4 linked regions of the Homo sapiens genome follow. The protein of the gene in region 1 interacts with the protein of each later gene in a biochemical or structural test. Each region holds a gene or a part of one and is shown in the gene's direction. Other genes may lie near its edges. The genes, in order: GRB2, PTPN11, ERBB2 and DNM1.

Region 1 (7,031 bases):
GGAGGTGAGCAGCAGCTCCCTGCAGCCAGCTGGAGCCTGCCAGTTTTCCCTAGTGCCCAGCACTCCTGAGCTTCTGCCCTCCAAGGGATTCCCGCAGCTCTCTCTAATGGGATAGTGGAGCGCCTGTCGGCTGCCTTGGCTTGCCTTGCTCAGGTCCACTGACTTAAATCAACCAGCCCCATCCTAGGCCCTCACAGTCACTTAAGAAGGCTGCTGCAGGGGATGTGGGGCTTGCATTTCCCCGGTGGAAAGTTCAGGTGTGAAAGGGAGCGGGTAAGCAGGGAATGGAGAAGACAGGAAGTTCTGCCGCCATGGAGAGTGTGGAGAATAGAAACCAGCACTTGAAGATTCTAAACAATTCACACCTCAGCTGTGAAGTCGGGATTTTGAATTAAATTGTTATTTCCATGTTTTTTACTTTCAGTTATTTTCTAGTTAATGTATTATCATAGGACCCTCCCCAGGAGTCCGGCAGATCACTTCATCAGTTATATATAAAGAAGTAATTAGATTCAACACTCAGATCACTACTTAGTTTAGATTACATTAAGATTGTTTTGTTTTTGAATGGGGGATAGAAAACCATTTTCCTTTTATTTTATTTACTTATTTTTGAGACAGAGTCTCGCTCTGTCCCCCAGGCTGGAGTCCAATGGCATGCCTCAGCTCACTGCAACCTCCACCTCCCAGGTTCAAGCAGTTCTCCCTGCCCCACCCTCCGAGTACCTGGGATTACAGGTGCCTGACACCACGCCCGGCTTATTTTTGTATTTTTAGTAGAGATGGGGTTTTGCCATATTGGCCAGGCTGGTCTTGAACTCCTGACCTCAGGTGATCCACCCACCTCGACCTCCCAAAGTGCTGGGATTACAGGCTGGAGCCACTGCTTCCAGCCACCATTTCCCATTTATAACTGATGTAAAGCGTGAGACTTTTCCATTTCAAAAATGAACTGACCAGCCTGGCCAACATGGTGAAACCCTGTTTCTGCTAAAAATAGAAAATAACCCAGGCATAGTGGCACACACCTGTAGTCCCAGCTACTTGGGAGGCTGAGGCCAGAGAATCATTTGAATCCAGGAGGCGGAGGTTGTAGTGAGGCGAGATGGCGCCATTGCACTTTAGCCTGGGCGAAGAGCAAAACTCTGTCTCCAAAAAAAAAAAAAAAAAAAAAAAAAAAACTGGGTGCGGTGGCTCACACCTGTAATCCCAGCACTTTGGGAGGCCGAGGCAGGCAGATCACCTGAGGTCAGAAGTTCGAGACCAGCCTGGCGAACATGGTAAAACCCTGTCTCTACTAAAAAAAAAAAAAAAAAAAAAAATACAAAAATGGCCTCGGCGTGGTGGCGTGTGCCTGTAATCCCAGCTACTCAGGAGGCTGAGAGAGAAGAATCACTTGAACCCGAGAGGCAGATGAGCCAAGATCGTGCCACTACACTCCAGCCTGAGTGACAGAGTAAGACTGTGTCTCCCAAAACAAACAAACAAACTGAATATCTTATTTGGTTTTAGAACCACTTAATGTGTGATTAAAATGTAGATTTTTTTTTTGAAACGTAGATTTTAAATTTATAGTTGTGGCCCGGCATGGTGGCTCATGCCTGTAATCCCAGCCCTTTAGGAGGCTGAGGCGGGCCGATCATGAGGTCAGGAGTTTGAGACCAGCCTGACCAATATGGTGAAACACTGTCCCTACTAAAAAAATACAAAAATTAGCCAGGCGTGGTGGCACATGCCTGTATTCCCAGCTACTCCGGAGGCTGAAGCAGGAGAATCACTTGAACCTAGGAGGCAGAGGTTGCAGTGAGCCGAGACTGAGCCATTGCATTCCAGCCTGGGTGAAAGAGCAAGACTCCATCCATCTTTAAAAAAAAAAAAAAAAGAAAAGAAAAACATGTGTGACACCTGTCTTTCTTTAGTTTTATACTGACCCAAGTGTAACTGAAACCTTATAAGATGAGGGGAACAAGCAGTAAATCACTGGGTGGTGGCCAAAACCACGGGGGCAGCCACGTGCTCGGCTGGACGCTGCCTGTTTGCTCAGCAGAAACTCTCAAACTTCCATTTTCTCAAGTAGAATCTTTTAAGGATTTAATGCATTTATTGTTTTAGAAGCAAAGCAGGTGTCATGACTCTCTTTAACAACACACACACCTCTGCAAAAAAGGTTCAAGAATCAACAGTTGTCAGATGTTTCTTAGTTTTAGGATGTTTTGAGCCTGTGATTTGAAACACTGCTCATTATTGGGGCCCTGGGCTCTTAGAAACCACCTGCATTGCATGGGTGGAAGTGGGCCTCTGTGGGGCCAGAAGTGCCGTGGAATATACCCTTGCTAATGAAGCTTTCTCACCTTCCACATTTTGTCTTAACATGTAAAGCAGTATTTTTTCCAAATGCGAGGCATCTTGTGCTGAGTGGCTTCCTTGAGGCTCAGTGCTGCCACCTGCCGGATTGATTTTCTGAAGCCTTTGGTTTCCATCAGCTGAAAGACTGAAGGAGAGGAGGGACTCATTCATTCATTGAACAAGCACTCTCAGAGAATGCCTTTTTTTTTTTTTTTTTTTTTAATGAGATGGAGTGTCACTCTGTCGCACAGGCTGGAGTACAGTGGCCCAATCTCGGCTCACTGCAAGCTCCTCCTCCCGGGTTCACACCATTCTCCTGCCTCAGCCTCCCGAGTAGCTGTGACTACAGGCATCTGCCACCACACCTGGCTAATTTTTTGTATTTTTAGTAGAGACGGGGTTTCACTGTGTTAGCCATGGTGGTCTCGATATCCTGACCTTATGATCCGCCCACCTCGGCCTCCCAAAGTGCTGGGATTACAGGCATGAGCCACCGCATCCGGCCGAGAATGCCGAGAGTGCCCGGCCAGGTGAACAGGACAGGCAGAAGCGCCCTCGCTAGGCTGGTGTTTTAGCCAAATATCCTGTGACAGACCCTGTGAGCTAGTACCAGCCAGCCACGCTGTTGCCGGTTTTGCTTGCCAGTATAAAAGGGTGTGATCTAGTGATGGAGAAGCTTTTGGGTTTTGAAGTCTGGGCCTCTTTTATTGTCCCAGTACGTCCTTTTGTTCAGAGACCTTTTCCCCATGAGTGGAGCTAAAATTCCTGAATGGAAAACATTACTTTGAACTATTCCCAGTTACGAGAGAATTGTTGAAAGTATTTCCAGCCCTCCTCACCTTCTTCCTGCATATAAGATTTTAATTATTTTTTTATTCAAAGGATGTTAAGTCACACTCCTTTGTCTTAAGTACGGCTGTTTTTATTTGGTAGGGTTCAGGGCACATGGACTCTTTTTTTTTTTTTTTTTGAGACAGAGTTTCACTCTTGTTACCCAGGTTGGAGTGCAATGGCGCGATCTCAGCTCACCACAACCTCGGCCTCCCAGGTTCAAGTGATTCTCCTGCCTCAGCCTCCCGAGTAGCTGGGATTACAGGCATGCACCATCATGCCCAGCTACTTTTGTATTTTTAGTAGAGATGGGATTTCTCCATGTTGGCCAGGCTGGTCTCGAACTCCCGACCTCAGGTGATCTGCCCACCACGGCCTCCAAAGTGTTGGGATTACAGGTGTGAGCCACCGCACCCGGCCTGGACTCTTTATCTTACAAACATCTTCAGAATGAGAATGACTGATGGCCTGTCCCTCTCTGGTTTCTGGATGTTGTCCTGGTGCCCATCATTCATAGGGAGAGGTCCGTCCCAGGGACACCCAGTGAGGAAACTTGTTGCTCTGCAGTCCCTGAGGAGTGCTGCTGGGACAGTGGTTCTCTCGAGATAGCTCCTATATGGAAATACCCTCGATTTGCCAAGTTAGAGCCTTTAGCCGGTCACATGTGCTTTCTGTCCCTCCCAGGTTTGGAAACGATGTGCAGCACTTCAAGGTGCTCCGAGATGGAGCCGGGAAGTACTTCCTCTGGGTGGTGAAGTTCAATTCTTTGAATGAGCTGGTGGATTATCACAGATCTACATCTGTCTCCAGAAACCAGCAGATATTCCTGCGGGACATAGAACAGGTGCCACAGGTAAGCCTCATCAGGGTGAGATGGGATCATTTTTAGTTAAGAATAGCTCCTCAGTGTGCATTCCTGTAGGAAAGGGGAGGCGCCCCTCAACATGCGGGCGCCCTTCAGGGATTGCCGCTGGGGCTTCTGTGCTCCTTACTGAAAATGTTACCCTCCATTCACACTAAAGAGTTCTTTTTTCTGGCCCAGCATAGTAGCTCACACCTATAATCCCAGCACTTTGGGAGGCCGAGGCAGGCAGATCTCTTGAGGTCAGGTGTTTGAGACTAGCCTGGCCAACATGGTGAAACCCTGTCGCTACTAAAAATACAAAAATTAGCTGGATGTGGTGGCGCACACCTGCAGTCCCAGCTACTCGGGAAGCTGAGATGGAAAAATTGCTTGAACCCAGGAGGTGGAGATTGTAGTGAGCTGAGATTGCACCACTGCACTCCAACCTGGGCGACAGAGGGAGACTTCATTTCAAAAAAAAAAAAAAAAAAAAAAAAAGATTTGTTGTTTCAAATACAAGGTTTTTGCTTTTCCAGAGGCAGTGTGTAGCCAGCTTGCCAGCCTCTCTAGGGAGATGGTCTTTAACACACCCACCCAAAGATCCTGTCCCTGGAAGCAAATTATGAGGAAAACTATGCTTGTGAGGGAATGGGGTCGGCACCCGTTCCTGTCCCTCGAGCCCTGGTCGTAAGTTACGGTTAGAGCCCCTTATGTTATTCGAGCTCCAGAACTTTAGGCTTTAATACCTTAAGGGTGTCGTAGAAGGGATTTGCGATTCTGGGCCCACGGCCTAAACACAGATGGCTGTTTCTGAAGAACTTTCTCCTCCAAGCACTGCCTGCCCTCTACTTGATAATACGGCACAGTTGGCCACCCTCCTCTGGGAGACATACTCTAATATTTTCTGAGCACTGGGAAATATCACACTAAACCCGCTTGGCCTGTAAACTTAGAATAGGTAAGAATAAACGGGGGGTTGGGAGATGGGAGGTGAGTTTAAGAAACATGGAGAATTTGGCACGCATTCGTTTCCCCCTGGAACCCATCTGGCCTCGGAGGTGGCCAGTCACAGACCAGGAATGCAATGTGGGTTTTTCCTGCTCCTGTTTTGCAGCAGCCGACATACGTCCAGGCCCTCTTTGACTTTGATCCCCAGGAGGATGGAGAGCTGGGCTTCCGCCGGGGAGATTTTATCCATGTCATGGATAACTCAGACCCCAACTGGTGGAAAGGAGCTTGCCACGGGCAGACCGGCATGTTTCCCCGCAATTATGTCACCCCCGTGAACCGGAACGTCTAAGAGTCAAGAAGCAATTATTTAAAGAAAGTGAAAAATGTAAAACACATACAAAAGAATTAAACCCACAAGCTGCCTCTGACAGCAGCCTGTGAGGGAGTGCAGAACACCTGGCCGGGTCACCCTGTGACCCTCTCACTTTGGTTGGAACTTTAGGGGGTGGGAGGGGGCGTTGGATTTAAAAATGCCAAAACTTACCTATAAATTAAGAAGAGTTTTTATTACAAATTTTCACTGCTGCTCCTCTTTCCCCTCCTTTGTCTTTTTTTTCATCCTTTTTTCTCTTCTGTCCATCAGTGCATGACGTTTAAGGCCACGTATAGTCCTAGCTGACGCCAATAATAAAAAACAAGAAACCAAGTGGGCTGGTATTCTCTCTATGCAAAATGTCTGTTTTAGTTGGAATGACTGAAAGAAGAACAGCTGTTCCTGTGTTCTTCGTATATACACACAAAAAGGAGCGGGCAGGGCCGCTCGATGCCTTTGCTGTTTAGCTTCCTCCAGAGGAGGGGACTTGTAGGAATCTGCCTTCCAGCCCAGACCCCCAGTGTATTTTGTCCAAGTTCACAGTAGAGTAGGGTAGAAGGAAAGCATGTCTCTGCTTCCATGGCTTCCTGAGAAAGCCCACCTGGGCTGGGCGCGGTGGCTCACGCCTGTAATCCCAGCACTTTGGGAGGCCAAGGTGGGCGGATCACAAGGTCAGGAGTTCGAGACCAACCTAGCCAACATGGTGAAACCCCGTCTCTACTAAAAATAAGAAATTAGCCGGGTGTGGCACGCACCTGTAGTCCCAGCTACTTGGGAGCCTGAGGCAGGAGAATCGCTTGAACCTGGGAAGTGGAGGTTGAGTGAGCCGGGACCGTGCCATTGTACTCCAGCCTGGGTGACAGAGCGAGATTCCGTCTCAAAAAAAAAAAAAAAAAGCCCACCTGAAAGCCTGTCTCTTTCCACTTTGTTGGCCCTTCCAGTGGGATTATCGAGCATGTTGTTTTTTCATAGTGCCTTTTTCCTTATTTCAAGGGTTGCTTCTGAGTGGTGTTTTTTTTTTTTTTTTAATTTGTTTTGTTTTAAAATAAGTTAAAGGCAGTCCAGAGCTTTTCAGCCAATTTGTCTCCTACTCTGTGTAAATATTTTTCCCTCCGGGCAGGGGAGCCAGGGTAGAGCAAAGGAGACAAAGCAGGAGTGGAAGGTGAGGCGTTCTCCTGCTTGTACTAAGCCAGGAGGCTTTAAGCTCCAGCTTTAAGGGTTGTGAGCCCCTTGGGGGTTCAGGGAACTGCTTGCCCAGGGTGCAGTGTGAGTGTGATGGGCCACCGGGGCAAGAGGGAAGGTGACCGCCCAGCTCTCCCACATCCCACTGGATCTGGCTTACAGGGGGGTCGGAAGCCTGTCCTCACCGTCTCGGGGGTTGTGGCCCCCGCCCCCTCCCTATATGCACCCCTGGAACCAGCAAGTCCCAGACAAGGAGAGCGGAGGAGGAAGTCATGGGAACGCAGCCTCCAGTTGTAGCAGGTTTCACTATTCCTATGCTGGGGTACACAGTGAGAGTACTCACTTTTCACTTGTCTTGCTCTTAGATTGGGCCATGGCTTTCATCCTGTGTCCCCTGACCTGTCCAGGTGAGTGTGAGGGCAGCACTGGGAAGCTGGAGTGCTGCTTGTGCCTCCCTTCCCAGTGGGCTGTGTTGACTGCTGCTCCCCACCCCTACCGATGGTC
Region 2 (4,503 bases), on another chromosome or scaffold:
GATAAGCAAAATTTGAAACCATTTAAAGACCACTGTATTTTAACTCAACAATACCTGCTTCCCAATTACTCATTTCCTCAGATAAGAAGAAATCATCTCTACAATGTAGACAACATTATATTTTATAGAATTTGTTTGAAATTGAGGAAGCAGTTAAATTGTGCGCTGTATTTTGCAGATTATGGGGATTCAAATTCTAGTAATAGGCTTTTTTATTTTTATTTTTATACCCTTAACCAGTTTAATTTTTTTTTTCCTCATTGTTGGGGATGATGAGAAGAAATGATTTGGGAAAATTAAGTAACAACGACCTAGAAAAGTGAGAACAATCTCATTTACCATCATGTATCCAGTAGTGGATAATTCATTTTGATGGCTTCTATTTTTGGCCAAATGAGAATTAAGCCAGTGCCTGAGACTGTCAGAAGTTGACCTTTGCACTGGCATTAAAGAGTCATAGAAAAAGAATCATGGATATTTATGAATTAAGGTAAGAGGTGTGGCTTTTTTTTTTTTCTTTTTTCCAGCCGTTGACCAATTATAGTTCGGCTGTTGACTGAGAAGTTTGTGGTGGGAAAACGTTTGCCATATTTTCTTTGCATTTGAATAATTGTCTTGTACTTAGAAAAAAGGCGTCTATGAATGACCAGTGTTTTTGGTCGCCAAATGTTGCTGACAAACTTATCCCAAAACTTTAGTGGCTTAAAAAAACCTGCCCCCAACTGTTAGTCAATCTGAGCTGGGCTCAGCTGGGCTGTTCTTCTGCCAGCCTGCAGGTGGCCACTCATGTGGTCAGCAGGTCGGCGGAGAGACTGGGATGGCTGGGCTTCTCTCTCTGCCTGCAGTCCTGAGTCTCTCCTTCTTCGTGTAGTCTCTTTCAGTGGCCTGGCTGGCAGGGTAGCTAGACCTCTCACATGCAGCTCAGAGCTCCCAAGAGCTCAAAAGCAGAAATGGCCAGGCCTTCTGAAAACTTAAGTCCAGAATTGTCACAGTGTCCCTTCTACTTCCCTCTATTGATGATGATGATGATGATGATGATGATGATGATGATGATGATGATGGTTTTTTCTAATCAGAAGAAAGCTGGGGTATGCCCTCTACTTACTAAACAAGTCACAAGCCCAGCTCAGATTCAAGAAAAGGGTGTGAAGTAGAGGTGCAGTTAAGTGGGGGGCCACTAGTCTAACAGACGGTCACAACCAGTGCCATGGAAAACCAAGGATATTAGCAAAAGCAGAAGTTGCTAGTGACCTTGGGAAGCCGAAGCTGCTTACAGTAGCTGGGACAAGCTGAAAGTCAGACTAAGAAATAAAGAGAGGGCCTTCAAGAAGCTTCCTGAATGATTTCTGCTAGCCCTGAGCCTATTTTTGGAACCAGCACTTGGGGAAACTGATCTTGTGAGGATGGATGTGTTTAGGGACACAGGGCTTTTGAGAGCAGCACCACCCCACTGGGGCATCCCCAGACTTGGGAAACGTGACTCTTTCTTAATGCCACTGGGTTTTAGTCAGGCCACAGTGAGAAGGAACAGCCCTAACAGGCCTCCAGCCAGGTTGAATGAGCTCATTTTTGTTGTAGCCAACCAGTAAGATTTGCTAATGTTCTACATTAAGTGCCTTCTCCAAAGACATCCCTCTTTGCCTCATATGTTGAATCATCCAGTGCGGATATTTCAATGAAAATATCATTGGTTGACTTTTGTGATGGTAATAATGCTATGGCATCTTTGCCATGAAGTTGTGGCCTCCTTGGATTCTTCTGACTTTGGCTTCTGAAAGGAAGGCCTAGATCCAGCCCTGGTGGTAGTTCCTTTCTGAGGTCTCTCAGTCCCTTGAGACTTTGGGGTAGTTTGGCTGCCATTCTCACTGACAAAATGTATATCAGCCCCCACCTCCACCCCCCAATATTCCTTGAACTTTGAATTGCTTCAGAACACAGGTGTGGCCTGAAGGTATTCCCTTATTAGGGAAGTGTCACTGCTGTCTTCTAGTCAAACTTGTAAAGAAAAAGATTCCAGTTCAGTATTTGCAGCAAGAAGCTTGAATGCTGTTCTTTTTATCGCATTGTTACATCGACTCATTCTCCATTTTGCTTTGGTTTTGTCTTGACTTGACTTGACTTTGGGGGTAAAGTCTTTCACCAGCACACAAGAGTTTGATTGTACAAATATATCTTCTGCATTAACATCTCTGCCTGTTGCTTAAGATCAGTTGCTTTTATACTCAGAATGGAAATACCTGATCTTGGCTAGTTTTGTTATAAGATATTGATTTCATTTAGATTTCCCTCCACGAGGTCAGCAAACTATCATGTTCTTATGTAAACTTAGGCCAAGGCCAGAGTTATCATAGTCCCTAGGTTGCTACGGCTTATCATGTGCTTGGTAAAAGGTGATCGCAGGTTCTCAGACGAGTTTACTTTACATGAGATGGAATCAGGCAGAGAGGCTGGGATGATGGAGAAAGCTCGAGGTGAAGTTTTAAAAAAAAAGTTGTGGAAAGGAAAGTTCCAAAGAGGTGGTTTCTGAGGAAGTCAGAGCGCCCAGGGCCAGAGCAGTCAGTAATGGGTGAATGAGGTTGTTTGGAAAGTCGGTGTGACAGACACATGGATGCCATCTACTTCTAGGTTGCTGGTGGGTATTAAATATGCACAATATTCCATAGCTCACTGAGGATTTTAAAATTATAAGCATAGGATTTTATATTTTGGGGTGAAAGAATTATCTGGCACATTAGGTATTGGAGTTTAAAAAAAAAGCCAAATTTCACAGTCTTAATAACTTTTTTTAAAAAAAACTAAAAGGCGCTTCATGTCCAGTGTGTGGCCCTTCTGAAACTTATGGTCATCTCTCCCACTGAAACCAAGGTCTTTTCAAATGTGGCTAAATGGGGATGAGGAGACACGGGTAGGACTTTCTTGGTGTGTGTGCATTCTTTAAAGAGCCAAGTTGCTTCGGGGAAACAGCCAGGAAAATGGTCAAGATTATTTTTAGAGGTTATTTTATTGGGGATTTTAAGAACTAATAACATCTTGAGTTATTTTTAATTCAGGGGGATGTGGAAAGGTTTGCAATTGTCAAGTGTTTTGTTGTAGCTTAGTATCCATAAGGGAAACTTAGACTATAGACATAACTACAAAGCCAGTGCAGCTTTTGTTTTCTGTATGTTGTTGGGGGATCAACTTTCACACATAGCAAGCACATGGCCTCCCTGATGTCAGGATGCCTTTGTTAGGATCTGTATTTGCCCTTAATTTTGTTGAAATCTTTTTTCCTTCTTCCTCTTGAAAAGTTCCAAAATATAGTTTATTGTATCTTTCATCACTAAAAATTTGTTCCTTTTTCACTATGGGCAGTTCACACAAGGCAAAAACTATTGAACAGTTGGTTTTAGTGTGTTGTATAACTTTGCTGTATATCAAACTAATTTTGACAAGTTTTCATCCTAAGCCTCAAATCATGTAATTAATAATTTGCCTGTTTATTTATGACCTAATTGTGATTCTTTTATTAATAAAAGCTAATGGGAAAAGGATCCCTGATTAAGCTGATGACTAGACCTACAATTAATTTTCCTGCAGTATATGAAGTATTGTACCAGAGTATTAAAAGATATGTAATATTTTATTGATAAATCTATCCTTTAAAAGGAATACGTTTTAGGATGTCATCATTTTGATGTGAATCATGTAAATGTTGATAATATGCTGTTTATTATACATTTAGTGTTTCAAGAGATTCACTTAATTGCCTTTTTGCCCACGTATATTATGTAGTCTATTTGCAACTGTTCTTAAAAAAATGACATTAAAAGAATAGTTTATGTAGAGAAACATTAGTGGATGTTAATTGTCTCCCCACCTATATTTATGGGTGTTAGCGCAACTGCTTTGCTAGTTGCAAAGCTGTATTATCAGAGTAAAAGTGTATTTGTAAACTGTATGGGAACTAAAAATTAGGAATAAAACCATTTTCTTATATGATGGCATTTGTCGTTTGCTTCATCAGAAATGTCCAGGAAAAAAATGGGATTATTGGTCACTCCACCTCTCACACTGGCAAAATACTGACATTTAGCAGCTCTTATCTAGAAGTGACTTGGAACATAGAATAAAGGCATGAGTTCCTGAAGAATTCATTGAGTGTTTCCTGTAGAAATAGCTTTAGGAGATAGGGAGTTCTATCTGGGAGAACATATGAGTAACTCAAGAGTAAAAAGTATAGTCTGTGTAAACTATAGAAGAAATGCTGGGCATGGTGGCGCGCCCCTGTAATCTCAGCTACTTGGAGGCTGAGACGGGAGGATTCCTTGAACCCAGGAGCCCAGGAGTTTTAGACCAGTCTGGGTAACATAGTGAGACCCTTTCTCACCTACTCTCACTGCATGCCCCCCAAAAATATATATGTGCGCGCACGCGCGCGCACACACACATACACACACACACACACACACACACACACAGAGGAAATTGTTAGAAAACACACAGAACTGAATGTAAATAGTA
Region 3 (7,031 bases), about 36 Mb from region 1:
ACCTTAGGTAATGCGTTTTCCTCTCTGGGTGCCTCCCATTTTCTGGCTCAAGTCCCTGCCCAGGATCAAGCTTGGAGGAGGGCCCCGAGGGAGGGGCCACAGAGACTGGGTGAAGAGCAAGGGTGTTTGTCCCAGGAGCATGGCGAAAATTGCTGCTGGGTGGCCTTGGGAAGCACAAAGGGGACCCAACTAAGGGCCTGATCCTACTGCCCTGGGGGTGTCAGTGCCAGCCCCCCACAAATCTTTTCTGCCCCCCCCAGGAGGCTGACCAGTGTGTGGCCTGTGCCCACTATAAGGACCCTCCCTTCTGCGTGGCCCGCTGCCCCAGCGGTGTGAAACCTGACCTCTCCTACATGCCCATCTGGAAGTTTCCAGATGAGGAGGGCGCATGCCAGCCTTGCCCCATCAACTGCACCCACTCGTGAGTCCAACGGTCTTTTCTGCAGAAAGGAGGACTTTCCTTTCAGGGGTCTTTCTGGGGCTCTTACTATAAAAGGGGACCAACTCTCCCTTTGTCATATCTTGTTTCTGATGACAAAAATAACACATTGTTAAAATTGTAAAATTAAAACATGAAATATAAATTAATGCCCTAGCAGTTCTATCCCCACTGTTAATAATTTGAAATATTTTTCCTCTAGTTATTTTTGTCTGTGCACATTCTAATATGTATATATAAGTTAACATATATTAATATTATTCTCCAGTTATTTTTATCTGTGCACATTTTAACACACACACACACACACACACACACACACATATGTATTTTTAGACGGAGTTTCACTCTGTCGCCCAGGCTGGAGTGCAGTAGTACAATCTTGGCTCACTGCAGCCTCCACCTCCTGGGTTTAAGCAATTCTCCTGCTTCCGCCTCCTGAGTAGCTGGGATTACGGGAACGTGCTACCTTGCCTGGCTAATTTTTGTATTTTTAGTACATAGGATTTCACCATGTTGGCCAGGCTGGTCTCGAACCCCTGACCTCAGGTGATCTGCCAGCCTCGGTCCCCCAAAGTGTTGGGATTACAGCGGTGAGCCACCATGCCCAGTCATATATTTCTTTTTAACAAATAGAATCATAGATCATACATATTGTTTGCAAATTGCTTTTTCTCACTTTCCAGAACCTTGAAATGTTTTTCCATGTTCTAACATGGTGATCTACCTTATTCTTTTAATTTTTCTTATTTAGTTGTCTTTACACATGAAACACATGAATACATCCTTGTGATAAACATTTTCAGTAACATAAAAGTATAAATGTTACAAAGCCAACGTGCCCTTTCACTCAACTCCCTGTCCACCCAGTCTCTCCTGTCTGCTGGGAGAACCACCGCATTGACTTGTGTGTTCACCCTTCCAGGCTCTTTTCTGCACACTTATATAGACATACTACATTTATATTAGGTCGAGTCAAATAAGATTGCTGTTTGTGTAAACCAAAAAGTGTCAAGAGCCTGGGCGCAGTGACTCACACCTGTAATCCCAGCACTTTGGGAGGCTGAGGCAGGCAGATCACTTGAGATCAGGAGTTCGAGACCAATCTGGCCAACATAGCGAGACCCCGTCTCTACTAAAAATACAAAAACTAGCCAGGTGTGGTGATGCTGTTCTGCACTTTGCTTTCCCCCCGACTTGAGGTATCCTTTCTTGTGAGTACAGACGGATCTACCACCTTTATTTTTTTTTTAATTACTCAACCTGTAACATGGATGTAATTTCACTTTGTTTTTGAGGGATATTGAGCTTGTTTCCCTGTTTTTGCAGTTTATTGCAATTGAGCTCCACACACAAGTGAGCCCTCTTTTGTATGCCCCCTAGTGGGAATACAGTGCTGGCAATGTTTATCACAAGGATATATTCATGCATTTCAATTTAAAGACAACTAAATGAGAAAAATTAAAAGAATATGGATCCAGGCTGGGCATGGTGGCTCACGCCTGTAATCCCAGCACTTTGGGAGGCCGAGGCAGGCAGATCACCTGAGGTCAGGAGTTCAAGACCAGCCTGGCCAACATGGCAAAACCCCGTCTCTACTAAAAATACAAAAATTAGCCAGGCGTGGTGGTGGGCGCCTGTAATCCCAGCTATTTGAGAGGTTGAGACAGGAGAATTGCTTGAACCTGGGCAGCGGAGGTTGCAGTGAGACGAGATTGCACCAGTGCACTCCAACCTGGGCAACACAGTGCAACTCCTTCTCAAGAAAAAAAAGAAAAAAAAAAAGAATATGGGTCCAGATCCATATGGATCCTAGATCCAGATCACGGTGTTAGAACATGGAAAAACATTGCAAGATTCTGCTAAGTGAAAAAAGCATTTGCAAACAGTATGTACAGTCTATATTCAGAGGAGGAACTGCTGGGTCATAGATGATATTTCATAGGTATTGCCAAACCGTTCTCTGGAGAAGTGGTATGGGTTTACCCTGGGATTCTTCTATGGAGGGAATAGTTGAGCTCCCGGGCTTGCTCTTCTGGGTGCCCCTCCCCGCTTCCTATCCACCACAAGGAGCTGCAGGGGAGCGGGGCATGCCGGTTCCTTGGCTGGAGAAGGAGTCTCCTTGTGAGGTGGTAGAAGGAGCACTGACGGCCTTGAGCCCAGTTTCTGCCTTTGTCAAATGGGGATAATGACCCAGCCACACCCCTCCCAGGGTTGTTGTGAGGCTGGAAAGGTGGTTCCCAAGAGGGTGGTTCCCAGAATTGTTGATGAGACTGTTTCTCCTGCAGCTGTGTGGACCTGGATGACAAGGGCTGCCCCGCCGAGCAGAGAGCCAGGTTGGCCTGGACCCCAGGATGTACCCTTCATTGCCCTTCACTCCCCCACTGGATGCTGGGTGGTCACTGCTGTAGGGAGGGGACCCCCTGACATATGTCCCTTCCCACCCACTCTTCCACTGTGGAACCTCCTGTCATTTTCCACTTCACCAAGTGACAGAGGACCTGCTCAGATGCTGAGGGGAGGGGACTGCAAGGAAAGATGGCTAGGAAACCCAGTCCCTCCACACCCTAGAGTAACTTGATGCCTTGTGAGGGACACAGGCAAAGTTCAATTCCTTGGAAGTCAAGGGAGACTGAGAAGAGTACAGCTGCAGCACTGAGGGAGTGATGAATTCTTAACTGGGGATGGTGGGAGGCTTCGAGTGGGAGGTGGCATTTGAGCTAGGCTTTGAGAGAGGAGCAGGTATTGCACTTGCATTTAGGTAGAAAGCATTGGGGTGCAAGGTGACACTGGAGGGGGAGGCATCAGGAAATCCAGGATGTCTTCAAAGTTCTGGTGTCGGGGGCTGTTGAGTAAGCACAGGAATAAGGGGGTCAAGTTAGAGTCAGGGTGGGGTCTGACCTGGATGCCATAGGACCTGATCCCCAAGCCACAGGGTGGGACTTGACTGGGCAGTGGGGACCTTTGGAAAGGACTTTGGGGAGAAAAACAGACTGGAGTCTGTCTTAGGCGATCATCGGTCCGTGAAATGAGCATGTGTTACAGGCTTGGTATGTACCAGACCCTGTGCTAAGCAAGGGGGTATGGAGAGGAGAGGGTGACAAGAATATTGGATCAACACCCGGGAGCTCCATCTATCCCAGGATGCACTATCTTTTTTTTATTTTTTTGAGACGGAGTCTCACTCTGCCTGCAGGCTGGAGTGCAGTGGCTCCATCTCGGTTCACTGCAACCTCTGCCTCCTGGGTTCAAGCGCTTCTTGTGCCTCAGCCTCCCAAGTAGCTGGGATTACAGGCACATGCCACCACACCCAGCTAATTTTTGTATTTTTAGTAGAGACGGGGTTTCACCATGTTGGCCAGGATGGTCTCGATCTCTTGACCTCAAGATCCGCCCACCTTGGCCTCCCAAAGTGCTGGGATTACAGACATGAGCCACCGTGCCCAGCCAGATACGCTATCTTTTTATTGAGTGATTGAGACAGGGTCTTGCTCTCTTGTCCAGTCTTGAATGTGGTGGTGTAATCACAGGCTCACTGCAGCCTTGACCTCCTGGGCTCAAGTTACCCTTCTGCAGTAGCTGGGACTATAGGAGCGTGCCACCACGCCTGGGTAATTTAAAAAATTTTTTTTGTATAGACAGGGTCTCACTATGTTGCCCGAGCTGGTCTCAAACTCGTGGGCTCAAGTGATCCTCCAGTTTTGGCCTCCCAAAATGTTGGGATCACAGGAGTGAGCCACCACTCCTGGCGATGAGCCAAGTCTTTTTTTTTTTTTTTTTTTTTTGATATGGAGTCTTGCTCTGTTGCCCAGGCTGGAGTGCAATGACACGATCTTGGCTCACTGCAACCTCTGCCTCCCAGGTTCAAGCAGTTCAAGCAATCCTCCTGTCTCAGCCCCCCAGTAGCTGGGATTACAGGCATGCGCTACCACGTCCGGCTAATTTTTGTATTTTTAGTAGAGATGAGGTTTTGCCATGTTGGCCAGGCTGGTCTTGAACTGCTGACCTCAGGTGATCCACCTGCCTCGGCCTCCCAAAGTGCTGGGATTACAGGTGTGAGCCATCGTGCCTGGCGGAGCCGAGTCTTAAAAGATGACCCTGTGGAGAAATGGTGGTCCAGGCTGAAGGGACAGCCTATGCAAACACTGGGAGGTGTGGAAAATCATGACCTGTGGGTGGAAATTTTGGCTAGAACATCAAAATCATCAGGTGTACATTCCTGTACCCATGCAGCAGTCAGAATCTCTGGGGGTGGGGCCCCAAAATTGTATGCATACAGACTGTGTGCTGATTTGTGATATTACTTAGGATTTTTTGACTTTACAATGGTGGAAAAGCAATAATATACATTCAGTATAAACCGTACTTTGAATACCCATACAGCCATTCTGTTTTTCACTTTTATTTTTATTTATTTATTTATTTATTATTTATTTTGAGATGTCATTTTGCTGTTGTTACCCAGGCTGGAGTGCAATGGCGCAGTCTTGGCTCACCGCAACCTCCACCTCTCAGGTTCAAACGATTCTCCTGCTTCAGCCTCCAGAGTGGCTGGGATTACAGGCAGGCACCACCACACCCGGCTAATTTTGTATTTTTAGTAGAGACGGGGTTTCTCCATGTTAGTCAGGCTGGTCTCGAACTCGAGAGCTCAGGTGATCTGCCCATCTCAGCCTCAAGCCACCATGCCCAGCCCTACTTTCAGTATTCAATAAATTACATAGCCAGGCACCGTGGCTCACACCTGTAATCCCAGCACTTTAGGAGGCCAAGGTGGGAGGATCCTTTGAGGCCAGAAGCTCGAGACCAGCCTGGGCAACATAGTGAGACCCCATTTCTACAAAAAATAAAAAAACTAGCTGAGTGTGGTGGCGTGTGTCTGTAGTCCCAGCTACTTGGGCAGCTGAGGTGGAAAGACTGCTTGAGCCCAGAGGTCAGGGCTGCAGTGGGCCATGATCTCACCACTGCACTCAGCCTGGGCAACACAGCAAGGCCCTGTCTCAAAAATAAATAAATAAATAACACAAACTTATTTAACAGTTTACTATAAAATAGGCTTTGTGTCAGATGATTCTGCCCAACTGTAAGCTGCTGGCAGTGTAAATGTTCTGAGCACGTGTAAGCCAGGCTAGGTGTCTTAAATGCATTTTCAGTTTCAACTTAGAATTGGTTTATCAGGACGTAGCCCCTTGGTGTTGAGGGGCATGTGTATTAACAGTCTCCTTAGTGACTTTTTTTTTTTTGAGATGGAGTCTTGCACTGGCCGTAGTGCAGTGGCACAATCTCAGCTCACTGCAACCTCTTGTCTCCCGGGTTCAAGCGATTCTCCTGCCTCAGTCTCCCAAGTAGCTGGGATTACAGGCACCCACACCACGCCCAGCTAATTTTTGTGTGTGTGTATTTTTAGTAGAGACGGGGGTTTCACTATGTTGGCCAGGCTGGTCTCGAACTCCTGACCTTGTGATCTGCCCACCTCAGACTCTCAAAGTGCTAGGATTCCAGGCATGAGCCACCGCGCCCAGAGTCCTTAGTGATTTTTACACCATGAATTGTTGAAGCCCTAAGCCAGAGCCAAGGGCAAGAGTATAGAGAATCTGGAGATGCGGAGAGGGTTCTGATTGCCTACAAGGAGTTTGGACTTTATTGTGGAGGCAGCGGGGAGCCAAGGCAGGTTTTAGAGTAGGAGAGGGTCCAAGCCTGTGGGTCACCCTTCCGACTTCCCTTTCCGAATGCCAAACACCTTCATGTCCCCCGTGGGCCCCCTTTGTCCCTCCCACCCCAAACTAGCCCTCAATCCCTGACCCTGGCTTCCGCCCCCAGCCCTCTGACGTCCATCATCTCTGCGGTGGTTGGCATTCTGCTGGTCGTGGTCTTGGGGGTGGTCTTTGGGATCCTCATCAAGCGACGGCAGCAGAAGATCCGGAAGTACACGATGCGGAGACTGCTGCAGGAAACGGAGGTGAGGCGGGGTGAAGTCCTCCCAGCCCGCGTGGGGTCTGCACCGGCCCCCGGCACTGACCCACCACCCCCTCACCCCAGCTGGTGGAGCCGCTGACACCTAGCGGAGCGATGCCCAACCAGGCGCAGATGCGGATCCTGAAAGAGACGGAGCTGAGGAAGGTGAAGGTGCTTGGATCTGGCGCTTTTGGCACAGTCTACAAGGTCAGGGCCAGGTCCTGGGGTGGGCGGCCCCAGAGGATGGGGGCGGTGCCTGGAGGGGTGTGGTCGGCAGTTCTGATGGGAGGGGCAAGAGCTGGAGGCAGTGTTTGGGGGAGGGCAGTTACAGCGGAGAAGGGAGCGGGGCCAAGCCCTAGGGTGGTGAAGGATGTTTGGAGGACAAGTAATGATCTCCTGGAAGGCAGGTAGGATCCAGCCCACGCTCTTCTCACTCATATCCTCCTCTTTCTGCCCAGGGCATCTGGATCCCTGATGGGGAGAATGTGAAAATTCCAGTGGCCATCAAAGTGTTGAGGGAAAACACATCCCCCAAAGCCAACAAAGAAATCTTAGACGTAAGCCCCTCCACCCTCTCCTGCTAGGAGGACAGGAAGGACCCCATGGCTGCAGGTCTGGGCTCTGGTCTCTCTTCATT
Region 4 (7,463 bases), on another chromosome or scaffold:
GTAGGATGTAAATATGGAAGCTCTGAGTCACACTGACAACCGTCTACATCTTGACTCCATCATTTCTTGGCTATGTGACCTCAGACATGTTCTTTACTAACCTCTCTGTGCCTCAGTTTTCTCATCTGTCAAAGGAGGCTAATAAAACTTCTTTCTCGGCTGGGCACGGTGGCTCACGCCTGTAATCCCAGCACTTTGGGAGGCCGAGGTGAGTGGATCACCTGAGGTCAGGAGTTCAAGACCAGCCTGGCCAACATGGTGAAACCCTGTCTGTACTAAAAATACAAAAATTAGCTGGGCATAATGGTGGGCACCTGTAATCCCAGCTACTCAGGAGGCTGAAGCAGGAGAATTGCTTGAGCCCAGGAGGCAGAGGTTGCAGTAAGCAGAGATCATGCCACTGCACTCCAGCTTGGAGCTGGAACAAGACTCTGTCTCAAAAAAAAAAAATTCTGCCCAGCACAGTTGGTGGTCAAAACTTTGGGAGCTCAGCCATGTATGGTGGCTCACACCTATAGTGCCAGCACTTTGGGAGGCCAAAACAGTAGGATCACTTGAAACCAGGAGTTCAAAACCAACCTGGGCAACAAAGCAAGATCCCGTCTGTACAAAAAAAAATTGTTTTAATTAACTGGGCATGGTGGTGTGCACTTGTAGTTTCAGCTATTTGGGTGGCTGAGGCAGGAAGCCTACTTGAGCCCAGGAGTTTGAGGCTACAGGGAGCTGCGATTGTGCTACTGCACTCCAGTCTGGGCAGCTGAGCAAGGTTTATCTTATCTCTAAAAACAAACAAAAAAACAAAAACAAAAAAGCTTTGGGAGCTCAAGAGAGAGTAAAGAAGCCATTTCTTTCTTTCTTTTTTTTTTTTTTTTTGAGATGGAGTCTTGCTCTGTCACCCAGGCTGGAGTGCATGGTGTGATCTCGGCTCGATGCAACCACCACCCCTGCCTCCCAGGTTCAAGCAATTCTCCCACCTCAGCCTCTCGAGTACCTGGGATTACAGGTGCGGGCTACCATGCCCAGCTAATTTTTGTATATTTAGTAGAGATGGTGTTTCGCCATGTTGGACAGGCTGGTCTCCAACTCCTGGCCTCAAGTGATCCACCCGCCTTGGCCTCCTAAAGTGCTGGGATTACAGGTGTGGGCCACTGCACCTGGCCCTGAGATTCTTCTTTTCAACCAACTCCATGTGATGCCAGGCTGCTGGCCTGGCATCAGTGATACAGCAGTATAGGATACTTAGTATAATCCCATTTCTGTAAAAACAAAATGGAACAAAATGAATATGTGCATATATGAAAAACAAAGCCAGAGAACGATCCCTAAGCTATAGTGGTTATCTCTAGGTGGGAGGATGACCAGAGGTTTTCAAATACTTGTGTAAAGTCTGGTTTTACAATAAGTTTCAATATTGTAATTAGGGGGGAAAAAGTAAAAATAATAAAAGCTGGCTGGGCATGGTGGCTCACAGCTATAATCCCAGCATTTTGGGAGGCTGAGGCGGACAGATCATGAGGTCAGGAGTTTGAGACCAGCCTGGCCAAGATGATGAAACCCCGTCTCTACTAAAAATACAAAAATTAGCTGGGCACAGTGGCGAGCACCTGTAATCCCAGCTACTCAGGAGGCTGAGGCAGGAGAATTCCTTGAACCAGGGAGGGAGAGGTTGCAGTGAGCTGAGATCACACCACTGCACTCTAACCTGAGCGACAGAGCAAGACTCTGTCTCAAAAAAAAAAAAAGAAAGAAATACAAAAAATTAGCTGGGCGTGGTGGTGCATGCCTGTAGTCCCAGCTACTTTGGAGGCTGAGGCAGGAGAATCACCTGAACTTGGGAGGCGGAGGTTGCAGTGAGCTGAGATCACGACACTGCACTCCAGCCTGGGAGACAGAGCGAGACTACGTCTCAAATAAATAAATAAATAGGCTGGGCACAGTGGCTCATTCCCGTAATCCCAACACTTTGGGAGGCTGAGGCAGGAGGATCACAAGGTCAAGAGATCGAGACCATCCCGGCCGACATGGTGAAACCCTATCTCTACTAAAAATACAAAAATTGGCCGGGCGCAGTGGTTCACACCTGTAATCCCAGCACTTTGGGAGGCAGAGGCAGGCAGATCACAAGGTCAGGAGATGGAAACCATCCTGGCTAACACGGTGAAACCCTATCTCTACTAAAAATACAAAACATTAGCCGGGCGTGGTGGCACGAGCCTGTAGTCCCAGCTACTTGGGAGGCTGAGGCAGGAGAATTGCTTGAACCCAGGAGGTGGAGGTTGCAGTGAGCCAAGATCGCACCACTGCACTCTAGCCTGGGTAACAGAGCGAGATTCCGTCTCAAAAAACAAACAAACAAACAAAAAATACAAAAATTAGCTAGGAGTGGTGGCACGTGCCTGTAGTCCCAGCTACTCGGGAGGCTGAGGCAGGAGAATCGCTTGAACCCAGGAGGCAGAGGTTGCAGTGAGCTGAGATCATGCCACTGCACTCCAGCCTGGCGACAGAGTGAGACTCCGTCTCAAAAATAAATAAAATAAATAAGTAAATAAATAATATTAAAAGCCCAGCCATGATGCCCTCTAGGCAAACATCTATAAACTGCACCCCCTCCTGGTGCCAGTCATCCAGGCTTCCATCTCTGCCTTCTCTTGTCCTCAGAGCATAATAACAGGTTGGCATGGAACAGCTGCCAGGTTCCATGCAAGTTGTGTGGCACTGATGCTCCAGCTGTCTGGTGAGCTGTTATCATTGGCATCCTCACAGCTGCAGCTTAATAAGGGCCCCCTGAGCACTAGGCCTGGGCTGTGCCCTACACAGGCATTTGATCTATTATTATCCCCATTATCCAGATTAGTTAACTGAGGTTCAGAGACGTGGAGGGACCTGGGTCACGCAGCTTGTTTAAGGCCCAGATTAGACTCCTAATCCACTCTCTGGTGCTACCAGGGAGAGGGCCTGCTTGTTCCCCATGCCTGCCTCGAAGATTCCTCCCCACAAGGGTCACTCTCTGATCACCATCTTCACAATAGCAACACCACCCTACCCCGCCCCTGCTTTCTTGCTCTGCAGGGCACGCCATCTAACAGGGCCATCGTTATTGCCCTATTTGCATATTGTCTGTCTTTTTCCACTGAATTGTCAGCCACATGTGGGTAAGGACTTTGTCCGTTTTGCTCACTGCTTTATCTCTGGAGTCTAGCATAGTACCTGGCTCAACAAATACGCATTAAATGGATGAGTAAGTGAACAGTCTCCAATTCACAGACCACTTTGTCAGCAGTGCCCCCACACTGTTCACAGCGCAGGGAAATGACTCACCGACTCCCCATGAGCACAGTGTAGGCTAGCCTTCCCTTCCTAGCCTCCACCGTGAATACTAATTAGGTTTCTTAAATGCAGAGATGGACGGCTGGGCTCAGGGCCCCATGGTCTGTCTGTGTGAAAGGGTACGCAGGGTAGGATTGTAGGAGCCCTGGATTTGAATCCCACTGTTTTACGCTGTTTTACCACCATCCTGATGGGTTGGAGCAAAGACTTCCACTCTCTAGGACAAGAGCTTCCAACTCTCCCAAGAAGGGCCCTCCAGGTGTCAGGGCCTCTGCACTTGCTGGTCATTCAGCCTGGCATGCTCTTCCCCTGATCTGCTTGCTGCTGGCTCCTTCTCATCATTTTGGTCTCTTCTCAAATGTCACTTCTGCAGAGAACACCCCCGACTCCTGCCAAGCCAATGTGAACTTTCCACACCCACAAAGATACCTTTTTTCACCCTGTTTATTTCCTCCATCCCTCTTACTATGAATTATTTTCATTTTTACTATTTCATTTATCTGCTTACTTATTTACTGTCTGTCTCCCCAGCTTGATGCAAGATCTATGAGGGCAGAGGCCTTGGCTGTCTTATTCGTTGCTGAATCTTCAGTGCCTAGGACAGGGCCTGGCTTCTAGCAGGTACCTAGTAAATATTTGTTGAATTCATGTTCCAACTTTCTCCTTCTAGAAACAAGGAAACTGAGGACCAAAGGCAGAAGAGGACATGTTGGAGATCAGAGTCAGGATCTAGGGATAGAAGCCAGCGAGATGAAGGGGAACTCATCTCGGAGTTCTGACCTCTGAGGTCAGGAGGCTGTGACCTCAGAGGAAGCCCATCTGCTCTCCAGGCCTGTTTCCTCATCGGTAAGATGGAGTGAAACATCCAGACCACTCTCCAAGAGGCCTGGTACTAGGAGTGAGACCCAACCCATTGACAAATATATTCTGCGCAGCATCCGCGCACCCCAGACACTGCTAAAGCACCCCAAAAGCCGCAGAAGGTGAAAACTACGACACCCATGATGCCCCGGACGGCGCCTGCGCACGGCGGCCGGCCCGCAGCGCCGCGGGCTCCCCCTAGCGGCGTCCGGGAGCGGTGCTCGCTCCGATCCCCGAGGGGCGGGGGCCCCGCGGCGCAGGCAGTCTGGGCGCGCGGCTGCAGCGGCGGAGCCGGAGTCGGAGCCGGGAGCGCTAGCGGCAGCCGGATCGCAGCCTGCGGGGCCCGCCGCAGCCATGGGCAACCGCGGCATGGAAGATCTCATCCCGCTGGTCAACCGGCTGCAAGACGCCTTCTCTGCCATCGGCCAGAACGCGGACCTCGACCTGCCGCAGATCGCTGTGGTGGGCGGCCAGAGCGCCGGCAAGAGCTCGGTGCTCGAGAATTTCGTAGGCAGGTAGGCGCGGCGCGCCCCCAGGCGCCGACCCCCGACCCCCGGGATCCCTGGAGTCCCCGCCCGGGGCACTGACGGCGCGGCGACCTCGCAGCCCCCGACGCTGCACCCGCGGCCGGCGCGCCCCCCACCCCCAGCCGGAGCGAGGAGGCCCTCCCCCCACCACGAGAGCCCCTCGGGGCAGCAGCGCCCCCCGCTAGTCTGCAAACGTCGTCAAGCCTCCGGCTACCGAATCACGCCCCCTCCTCCGTCCCATCCTTTAGGGCAGACAACGCTCTGCCAGAAGCCCCGGGCAAAGAGCTGCCCCCCGCCCCCAACATGGGCATGGAGAGAGCCCGCATTACTCAGCGTCTCCGTTGGGCTCCGGGAGTCCCTTGGAGCGGGCAGCACCCGGGGGCAGCGTCCCCCACACCGGGCTCAATGGGGGACATCCCCCTACCCCCATGGGAATTCCTGGGCCGTGGCAGAGGTCAGCCCCCGCATCCCAGTCCCTAGAAGAGGACGTAGTCCCGCGGGCATCGAGGACCGGGCACGGCCTCCCGCCAGCACACACACACCTCTGCGGCTCCCGCCGCCATCCGTGCGCAGCGCGGCGAGGGGGGAGGCGCGGGCTGCAGGATGAGGAAGGGAAGAGGGGAGGAGAAACCACTTCTTATCCTTTTCTGAGCAGCCGGCCCCTTGCTTCGCCACGGCCCCTGGGTGGGGGGCGCCTGTCAGTGTCGCCCTCCCCTTGGCCTGGCCAGAGGAATCGTGTTGGAGGGAGAGGCGGCAGAGGGCAGAGATGACTAAGACAGGGATGGCGGGAGGGGGGAGCCATTTGCAGAACCTAATCCCCCTCCCGCCTCTGATCCCACAAGGCGCTGAGAGGCCTAGGTGGCGGAGAGAGGAACAACCGCAAAGACAAAGGGTCGTGGGTTTAGCGGGGCAGGCAGGGTCGTGACCCGCAGGCTCCCCACAAACCCCCAAAGGGAGGCAGAAATAGTTTTTCTGGTGCTGAGGAGAGAGAAGAAAGATAGGAGCTCTCCAGGTACTGGAGGTGGGTTGGGGGGCTGGGCAGACTGGGGGATGAAGTGAGAGAGTTTACACTGACCCCGTCTTTCATCTCCCCCCCATCTTCTTCAGAAACTCTTGCTTTCTTCCAATGACCTTCAGGGCCAAAAAAGTGACTGGCACATGGGAGAGGGAGGCAGGGGCCCTTGTCCGCAGAGGTACAGCAGTTCTGTCCAAGCCAGGTTCTGCTGCAAAACCTCAGGCAAGTCACTTGCCCTCTCTGAGCCTCAGTGTCCCCATCTCTAACATGGACAGTGGGACTGGGTGGTTGTTCCTGCCCCTCAAATGTCCTGGGAAACCCATGCCAGCCCTAGAGGTGAGAGGGAGAGGGCCTGACTGGAGCCATGTGTGTGTGGGACGTTGGAAGGCCACCGTGGGGGCGGCCGTGCCCATCTGGTCAGCAGAGGGGAAGGCATCTGTCTCTCCAATGGCTCCTGCAGAGCCCCCCTTCTGATCACATGACCCCCGGAGCTGCAGAGACACAGGCAAGAGACACACCACGGGCCCCTTCCCCAAGGGCCAGCAGTCAGGGATATCCAGCAGTTTAGAATGGAGAAACCATATTCCTACCTCTCGTCCTTTGAATGTTGGCTGAACTCCTGCCCCATGCCAGGCTGCGTGCTTCAGGCTTGGGGTAGGGAGGGGACCAACTGGTGATTTCAGCCCGCATCTACTGAGCCCATCCCATGCATCCCCCTATGCTGAGTCCTTCATAGGCTCACAGGAGCTCCCAAGAGGCAGGTACCATGATGCCCATCCTACAGATGAGGAAACTGAGACCCTGGAGGTTAGATGCCTTGCCCAAGGTCACACATTCAGAAAGGGCAGCAGCTGTTAGACTCCAAAGCCCAATTCCTAATCTCGACGCTGCACATCCTCTGACAGCCGGGTCCTGCACCAGGCACAGGGACGTGTGGGTGGGTGGGCCTCCATTTCCCCATCTGCGGAATGGAAACGCTGACAGCCGCTGCCCTGCCTTCCTGAGAAGGTGACTGTGGGCTCCACCGAGTTCATGGGTGGAAAGGTGCTTTTGTAAACATGCGGGAGGGGGCGCTGATAGCCAATTAGGCTTGGGGACCTGCATGCCCAGCCCCTGCCTTCCTGGAGCCCATGACGCAGGGGCCATCCCTGACCACAGCAGATTTCATCGAGTACTTGCTTGTTGAGTGGTGGAGCAAGGTTTGGACCGTGCCCCAGGAGGCCTGGGCCCTCTGGCTGCCCTCTCCACCCCAATGCCCTTGGCCGTTGTCCCCACAGGAGGATGTGCAGGGTGTCCAGATGCAGGCCCAGGGCAGGGGAGGGGGCTTAGGTTGATGTGAAGGAGTAGGCAGAAAAGCATTCATGATCCTCTGAAAGCTAGTGAGAAGGCCAGGGAAACTGAGGCTCAGTGGGTTCCACTGTCTCAGCCTGCCAGCTCCCTCAAGGGCTCCTGACCTCTCCAACAGGGCTCAGTCCCCAGACTGGTGAGCATAGTAACAGCCATTCTGTCTCCTGGGGCTTCCCAGGAGCCAATCCCCAACAGAAAATGCTTCACAGGAAAATGCATCAGGGCTGCCCCAGGCCCACCCGGGCTTCTGGGTGCTCAGGAGGATCCTGCTGTCAACTCTGCAATGGAGGTAGCCTTGCAGCTGCCTGGGATGCTGCTAGAACTTGTCTGGGTCTATACTATTTCTTCACCCCCTTCCCTTTTACAGAAGGGAAAACTGAGGCCAA

Evidence for each region.
Region 2: the proteins of GRB2 (region 1) and PTPN11 form a complex in vitro, tested with the Homo sapiens proteins (4 studies listed by BioGRID, with this or other methods).
Region 3: the proteins of GRB2 (region 1) and ERBB2 form a complex in vitro, tested with the Homo sapiens proteins (4 studies listed by BioGRID and IntAct, with this or other methods).
Region 4: the proteins of GRB2 (region 1) and DNM1 form a complex in vitro, tested with the Homo sapiens proteins (5 studies listed by BioGRID and IntAct, with this or other methods).

Annotation. Positions count from the first base shown.
Region 1 is NC_000017.11:75,318,658-75,325,688, reverse strand, and holds part of GRB2 (growth factor receptor-bound protein 2), read left to right. Parts: intron 1-3,861; coding exon 3,862-4,030; intron 4,031-5,135; coding exon 5,136-5,321; 3' UTR 5,322-7,031. UniProt on the Homo sapiens protein: Non-enzymatic adapter protein that plays a pivotal role in precisely regulated signaling cascades from cell surface receptors to cellular responses, including signaling transduction and gene expression.
Region 2 is NC_000012.12:112,505,933-112,510,435, forward strand, and holds the end of PTPN11 (tyrosine-protein phosphatase non-receptor type 11), read left to right. Parts: 3' UTR 1-3,986; downstream 3,987-4,503. UniProt on the Homo sapiens protein: Acts downstream of various receptor and cytoplasmic protein tyrosine kinases to participate in the signal transduction from the cell surface to the nucleus. Positively regulates MAPK signal transduction pathway. Dephosphorylates GAB1, ARHGAP35 and EGFR.
Region 3 is NC_000017.11:39,717,060-39,724,090, forward strand, and holds part of ERBB2 (receptor tyrosine-protein kinase erbB-2 isoform a precursor), read left to right. Parts: intron 1-7; coding exon of another isoform or gene 8-109; intron 110-260; coding exon 261-421; coding exon of another isoform or gene 422-425; exon of another isoform or gene 426-598; intron 599-2,727; coding exon 2,728-2,775; intron 2,776-6,259; coding exon 6,260-6,398; intron 6,399-6,478; coding exon 6,479-6,601; intron 6,602-6,852; coding exon 6,853-6,951; intron 6,952-7,031. UniProt on the Homo sapiens protein: Protein tyrosine kinase that is part of several cell surface receptor complexes, but that apparently needs a coreceptor for ligand binding. Essential component of a neuregulin-receptor complex, although neuregulins do not interact with it alone.
Region 4 is NC_000009.12:128,198,929-128,206,391, forward strand, and holds the start of DNM1 (dynamin-1), read left to right. Parts: upstream 1-4,450; 5' UTR 4,451-4,542; coding exon 4,543-4,703; intron 4,704-5,257; exon of another isoform or gene 5,258-5,294; intron 5,295-7,463. UniProt on the Homo sapiens protein: Catalyzes the hydrolysis of GTP and utilizes this energy to mediate vesicle scission and participates in many forms of endocytosis, such as clathrin-mediated endocytosis or synaptic vesicle endocytosis as well as rapid endocytosis (RE).